Linked DNA regions of Homo sapiens. The protein of the gene in region 2 purifies or fractionates together with the protein of the main gene of each other region. This does not show direct contact. Each region holds a gene or a part of one and is shown on either strand. Other genes may lie near its edges. The genes, in order: OMA1 and CCDC142.

Region 1 (3,820 bases), on a different chromosome or scaffold from region 2:
ACAGAGGACAAGAGAAGACAAGAGCTGCACAGAGAAATAACTCTAGAGTTCTGCAGAGAATCCCCCTCCCATATTCAGCTGAGTCCTGTCTGGGCATATGTGTAAGAAAATTCCCTGGAGCTGGGAAAGGGCCACCTGAAAAGATTGCAGGGAATAATATACAGGGCTCACACAGGGCATGGTATACTGCCTATCCCCTCCCCACCATTCAAAGTGGAAAACCTTATCATTCGTGGGTAGAGTACTCAGAAGGGTTTTGCCTCAACATTAGAGAAAGATTAGTCTGAGACCGAAAGCTGCTCTGGCCCCACCTAACAAATATTAAAAGCAACCCCCAAAAAGATTAAATGCTTCCAAGCAACAACTGCATCCCAGGAAAAAAAAAAAATCTAAACAGGTATTAGGACACAAAACTATTTAACACTTAACAAGGTGCAATTTATAATTAAAAATCACCAAGCATGCAAGCAGCAAGATATGTGATCCACAATTAGAAGAAATATCAATCAGTGGAAACTAACTCCTAAATAAACAAATAACAGCATTAGTAGATAAGGATATTAGTTATTGTAACTATACTGCACATGTTTAAGAAGCTAAAGGAAAATATGAGCATGTTATGTAGAGATATGTAATATATTTCTTTAAAAGACCTAAACTTTTAGACAAGAAAACTGTAAGAACTAAGATGAAAAACATACTAGATGAGACTAACAGCAGATTAACATTGTAGAAATAAAGATTTGTGACTTTGAAGACGTATCAATAGAAACCATCTAAAATGAAATACAGAGAAAAAATACAATAATAAAAAAAGGCACAGGGCATCAATGAGGTATGCAATAACTTCAAGTGGCCTAATATTCATCTAACTGAAGTCCCCAAAAAGCGGGGAGGAGGTGTAGACAGAAAAAAAAAACACTTGAAATAATGGCCAAAAGTTTTCCAAACTTGATGAAAATTATAAAACCACAAATTCAAAAAGTTTAACAAATCCTACACAAAAGAAACACAAAGGAAAAAAACTACAAGGCACATAACTTCTTAAAATCAATGAAAGATAAAATCTTAAACTTGACATCTTAGGTGAACTGTATAAATTCATTGAAAAACACAAAAAAAGCTGGGCATGGTGGCTCACGCCTGTAATCCCAGCACTTTGGGAGGCCGAGGCAGGTGGATCATTTGAGGTCAGGCATTCGAGGCGTGAAACCCCGTCTCTACTAAAAATACAAAAATTAGGCAGGTGTGGTGGCACTTGCCTGTAATCCCAGCTACTCAGGAGGCTGAGGCAGGAGAATCGCTTGAACCCGGGAGGCGGAGGTTGCAGTGAGCCGAGATGACGCCACTGCATTCCAGCCTGGGCAACAGAGTGAGACTCTGTCTCAAAAAAAAAAAAAAAAAAAAAAAAAAAAAAAAAAAAAAAACAGGAAAAACACAAGAAAGTACATACTCTGATTACATCTCTATAATATAAACTGCAAAAAATGCAAACTAATCCATAGTGACAGAGAGATGAGTGACTGCTTGAGGAGTTGTAGGAAAAAAGCAGCAGGGGAAGGGATTACAAAGAGTGGTGCTTGCCTGTAAACCCAGCTACTTGGGAGGCTGAGGCAGGAGAATCACTTGAACCTGGGAGGCAAGAGACTGCAGTGAGCCAAAATTGTGCCACTACACTCCGGCGTGGGCAACAGAATGAGAACCTGTCAAAAAAAAAAAAAAAAAAAAAAAAAAACCAAAAACAAAAAACAAAAAAACCCAGATTGAGGGAATCTAAATATGAATTGAATTTCAAGTTGTTTTAGGTAATTATTATTTTCTTAGGTGATAATATTGTGGTTATCTGACTATTTTATTCCTGAGATACTTGCTGAAGGATCTGTTCATGATAAATAAAACTCACTTTCAAATTGTACAGCAAAGGTACACACACAAAGGACATAAAGTCAATAAACAAAATATCAGCAATCATTGTATCTCAGTGATAGTTACATATGTGTTCCTTAAATTTTTCTGCATGTTTCAAAATCTTCATATAAAAGTTGGGGAAAAAAATATGTAAACTTCAACCTAAGCTAATACGATATTATCTAGAAAGATGCTCCAGGACTACCAGTTTTAATAGTATTATCTATATATCAAACCATTTGAAAATTACTCAAATTTATTTTTTATGTAATTCATACATCCTGCCCTTGCACTGTTAATGTATAATGTTAATAAAGGGCATGCTAAGTAAAACATTAACTTTGAGTTAACCCTTTTTGAAATACAACCAATTTTAAATTAGTAAAGTCCAGGCTGATATATAATAGTTTGACATTATTAACAAGATACTTTGTTTTTACTTTTTTGAACCAAGCTGAAAAATTGTTAAATAATTTAAGCCTAGAAGTCATTTCACAATTCATACTGGAGTAGCTAGTAAGGTTTTCATTGGCTAGGGGCCATGAGAGTTATGCAGCACAGAATATAGTCCTGCTCTCATGGAGGTTATAATCTAGTTGGGGAGACAAAACTGAACCTAAGTAAGACTATTAGGGGATAATAAAATTCAGTTATTAAATACTACATACTGTATGCATTCTTAAAAAGACATCCATGAGTAGCTGAAGAGTTCAGGAAGGCAGCAATTATTTTTCATGCCATTTAGGCAGATGCAGAAAGACAAAAAAAAATGGAAAGAACTGTTTTAAATGGGAAAGTGTTTTAAGGTTTAAATGTAAAGTCTTCTTCTAGAAGTCAAACTGCAAAAACAACCCAAGCCCACTTTCTTTCCTTGACCTCAAATCTGATGATTTACTGTAGTAGATAAGCTTCAGACACTTGCCCAAGCACAAGTCCTTTTCCAAATGTGCATCTTACAGCCTCATTTTAGGGGACAGGCTTAGACGGCCACATTCATCCCTAGCAACCCCTACCATTAGCTACAGAGCTAGGAGTAGGTATTTGATACTGAAAAGATTTTACATAAAACAGTATTCCGCACAGGAATATAAGGGCATGTGTAAGTTGGGTCTACAGCGGGTGCTATGGCTAAACAAAGCAATATGAAAGCAAGAACTACAAACAAAAAGCTTTTTTAAAAAAAAAAAAGTGGATCCACAGAAAAGACAATGGACTATTAAGTGTAGACAGAAGATAAGTGAGAGACCACAAAGCCAGAGTGAATATGAGAGAATAAGACCTCCCTGATTCCCATGAAACCATTGTACTTCCTACACTTAATTGAGCTTCATGAGCTTTTACTTTATCCCCAAAATAATGCGCTTTCTTCAATGAGTTTCTGTATTCTGCAAATAAATGATCTCTAAGACGTTTACATGGTATAAAACAGTTATACATTTGTTTTTGTAAATTGACAGCATTTTAATATTATACATGTTGTTTACTGGAACTAGCTGAGGGTTCCTCCTACACTTTGCAAAGCCAAATTTACCAATTTTCAACATTTAATCAGTTCCAGAAATACTGGATTATCTCTACAGCAACTTTAGCATCCAAAATATCTCAGCCCACATTAAATCAGTCATGTCAATTCTACCTCCTTCTTATCTCATTCTAGCCTTTCCTGGGCTCTGTGGTCTTATGGTGTTGATCACTACCCACCTAATCTCCCTGCCTTATTTCACCACTAACCCCTCCCACTACAGTTTGACCCCAAACTAGAGCTAAAGCATTATTTCTAAAATGCAAACCCTGGCAACAGAATCCTACCCCGACAATTAACATACAGTCCTACCCTGGTAAATACCAGGTAATCATTTAAAAAATGACATGATGATCTGTAAATCTTTAAAAGATTTAAAAGATAGCAATC
Region 2 (3,820 bases):
CAAATGTAGAGAGAGGTGTATAATGGACTCCCATATGTCTGTCACCAAGCATTTAACAATTATCAACTCATGGTCAATTTCATCTGTGTATCCCCTACCCTCTCCCCAGTAATGCCAGACTCTCGTTTTTGATGGCAACAGTGGATCATTGCCTCGATTCATTATTTCATTAGAGGTTGTAAAGTGGTAACATTTCAATTCTCATCATTCCTACTTCATTTATGAGTTGGATTACTCCTATGAAGAAAAACTTGCCTTCATTAATGATTTGGTTACTCTTAGGTATATTTTAGAGAGAAAATTCAGGATAAATGATTGCATCTTTCTCTTTACTTACCAGTTATCGGCACATTTCTCCTCTCTTAAAAGTTTAATTTGTATTTTTATTAATGCTTTGGGAGGCCAAGGCAAGAGCATTGCTTGAGGCCAGGAGTTCGAGACCACCAGGGGCAACATAGCGAGACCACCCTAGGCAACACAGACTCCCATCTCTCCAAAAATTAAAAAATTTAGCTGAGCATGGTGGCATGCGCCTGTACTCCCAGCTACTTGGGAGGCTGAGGCAAGAGGATCGTTTGAGCCCAGGAGGTCAAGGCTGCAGTAAGCTGTGATAGCCACTGCATTCCAGCCAGCCTAGGCAATACAGTGAGAGACCCTGTCTCAAAAAATAAAATAGTGCATGTCTATAGTTTAAAAAGTGAAATAGAATATTATTTTATAAAACTAATGAAAAAACAGCACTTTGTTTGCCCTCACTCACCTCTGATTTCTATTTCACAGTAGTAACCTTCATCCATGTTTGCCTGTTTCTCCTAACATTTTCTTATATGTTTATGAATAAAGCCATTATACTTTTTCTTCCCCATTTTGCACATTTATCTATTCCTATGTGGAAGATGTCTGGTTTTTTGTTTTCCTGCTCAGTTTTCTCCTCTTTGCCCCGAATAGGGGTGTGGCTGTAGAGTTCAGTCCTTAACTCTCTGCTTTTCTCTCAGTATTCCTGCTTACCCACAGTGTCTTGCTGCTGTGAACTCCCGGGTTCAGTCTTTCTGGCTCCCAGAGTTCTTTTTTTTTTTCTAAGATGGGGTCTCACTGTCACCCAGGCTGGAGTGCAGTTATGTGATCTTGGCTCACTGCAACCTCCACCTCCTGGGCTCAAGCAATCCTCCCACCTCAGCCTCCTGAGTAGCTGGAACCACAGGTGGAAGCCACAATGCCCAGCTACTTTTTTTTTTTTTTTTTTTGAGAAGGTGTCTCACTCTGTCACCCAGGCTGGAGTGCAGTGGCGTGATCTCTACTCACTGCAACCTCCACCTCTCAGGTTCAAGTGATTCTCCTGCCTCAGCCTCCTGAGTGGCTGGGATTACAGGCGCCTGCCACCACGCCCAGCTAGTTTTTGTATTTTTAGTAGAGATGGGTTTCACCATGTTGGCCAGGCTGGTCTGGAACCCTTGACCTCAGGTGATCCACCCACCTCAGCCTCCCAAAGTGCTGGGATTATAGGTGTGAGCCACCACACCCGGCCAATGCCCAGCTACTTAAAAAAATTTTTTTTTTTGTAGAGACAAGGTTTTGCCATGTTGCCCAGGCTGGTCTTGAACCCTTTTTAAAAATCTTTTTAAAAAACTTTTTTGGGAGGCCAAGGTGGGTGGATCGCCTGAGGTCAGGAGTTCAAGACCAGCCTGCCCAACGTGGTGAAACCCCGTCTCTACTAAAAATACAAAAAAGTAGCCGGTATGGTGGCAGGTGCCTGTAATCCTAGCTACTTCTGAGGCTGAGGCAGGAGAATCGCTTGAACCTAGGAGGCGGAAGTTGCAGTGAGCCGAGATAGCGCCATTGCACTCCAGCCTGGGCAACAAGAACAAAAATTCTGTCTCAAAAAAAAAACAGAAAACAAAAAAATTTTTTGTCCAGGTGCAGTGGCTCACACCTGTAATCCCAGCACTTTGGGAAACCGAGGCAGGTGGATCATCTGAGGTTAGGAGATCAAGACCGGCCTGGCCAACATGGTGAAACCCTGTCTCTTCTAAAAATACAAAAATTAGCTGGACATTGTGGTGTACACCTGTAATCCCAGCTACTCGGGAGGCTGAGGCAGGAGAATCACTTGAATCCGGGAGGCGGAGGTTCCAGTGAGTCGAGAGCGTGCCATTGCATTCCAGCCTGGGCAACAGAGTGAGACTCAAAAAAAAAAAAGTATATATATATATTTTATTTATATTATATCTATATATATTTTATTTATATTATATCTATTTATATATATATATATTTTTTTTTTAATTAGAAGTTTGGCTCGTGACATAGCCCTCAGGAGATCTGAGAACATGTGCCCTGTTCTTGAACTCTTGAGCTCAAGCAATCCACCGCCTTGGCCTCCCAAAGTTCTGGGATTACAGGCATGAGCCTCCACACCCAGCCTGGCTCCCAGAGTTCTAGTTAAACATCTGCATTTGCCTGTTGGGCATTTCTACCTCAGTTTACTGCTGTCTACTTAAACTCAACATGCCCCAGAGCAGGCTCATCATGAGTACTGCACACAGTGACGGTCATAGAGCCCTGAGGAAGGAAGGCTATAGTGGGCATGTGGTTAAAGAACGCTCCATACATGGCCTATGGCTGGAGATGGTGGCTGGGAAGCCTCAGAGGAGTGGCTGGGGTTACTGGAAGTGGGCAGTTTGTAGATCCTTGTGGGGGTAGCAGAGAGGTGGCCTTACCAGAGCAGAGGTTCCTTTTGTGGGTATGTTCACTGGGGTTGGGTGTGGGGTAGGGTAGTAAGCAATTTGGCATCAAATTGTGGAGGGCATGAACACCAGCCCCAACAATTTGCGCTTTACCTCATAAGTGAGGGGGTGACATTTTAAGAGCAGAAGGGTGTAATCCCAGCATTTCGGGAGGCCGAGATGGGTGGATAACTTGAGGTCAGGAGTTTGTGACCAGCCTGGCCAACATGGTAAAACCCCATCTCTACTAAAAATACAAAAATTAGCCAGGCATGGTGACGGGTGCCTGTAATCCCAGCTGCTCAGAGGCTGAGGCATGAGAATCGGTTGAACCCAGGAGGCAGAGGTTGCAGTGATCTGAGATTGCGCAACTGCACTCCAGCCTGGGCAATAAGAGCGAAACTTGGTCTCAAAAAAAAAAAAAGAGGCATTGTGAGTTTTCTTCCTGTTTGGACTATAAGATCCCAGTGGGTGGGGGAGAGACTGTCACACACTCTGCACCTTGTATTCCCTCAGTGTTGAGTACAGAGGCTCCTAACAAAAGTCCGTTGACAAAAGGGCAATTTCCTTGACATAAATAAGGGAGGAGAAGGGGGCTTGCATTTACTGGAGAAGAGAGGAAGATTTTGGATTTAGACAGGTTGTCAGATGTGCCAGGAGCCATATGGGCTCCACTCCATGTCTGGCCGCCCCCAGGTCTATCCTGTCTTCAGGCTCCCTGGCATCTACCATTTCTTTACAGAGCAGCTGCCATTAACCACATTTACTGGGGTTCCTCTCCCTCAAGATGGGCTGTAGAGCAGAAACCAGCTTTATTGCTGTGTTCTCTCCCTCCAAAAACAACCTATCAAACCAAAGAAACAAACCCAGCATATAGGCCTTTTCTTGCTTTATGGGTTATATTGCTCTGGAGTGGGCTGTGAAGAATAATAATATATAATAATGCCTTTCAATGTAAGGACATTCCAAAACTTCCTGAGTCTCAGAACATTCAAATAGTCATTGCTTCTGGTTTACATACAGTTCTTGTCTTCCTTTTGTAGGTGATAACCAAAAGATCATTGTAGGCTGGGTGTAGTGGCTTAGTGGCTCACATC

The links.
Region 1: the proteins of CCDC142 (region 2) and OMA1 purify together in Homo sapiens (affinity purification with mass spectrometry; one large-scale study listed by BioGRID and IntAct). This does not show direct contact.

What each region holds. Positions count from the first base shown.
Region 1 is NC_000001.11:58,539,907-58,543,726, forward strand, and holds part of OMA1 (metalloendopeptidase OMA1, mitochondrial precursor), read right to left. Parts: intron 1-3,820. UniProt on the Homo sapiens protein: Metalloprotease that is part of the quality control system in the inner membrane of mitochondria. Activated in response to various mitochondrial stress, leading to the proteolytic cleavage of target proteins, such as OPA1, UQCC3 and DELE1.
Region 2 is NC_000002.12:74,476,450-74,480,269, reverse strand, and holds part of CCDC142 (coiled-coil domain-containing protein 142), read left to right. Parts: intron 1-3,820.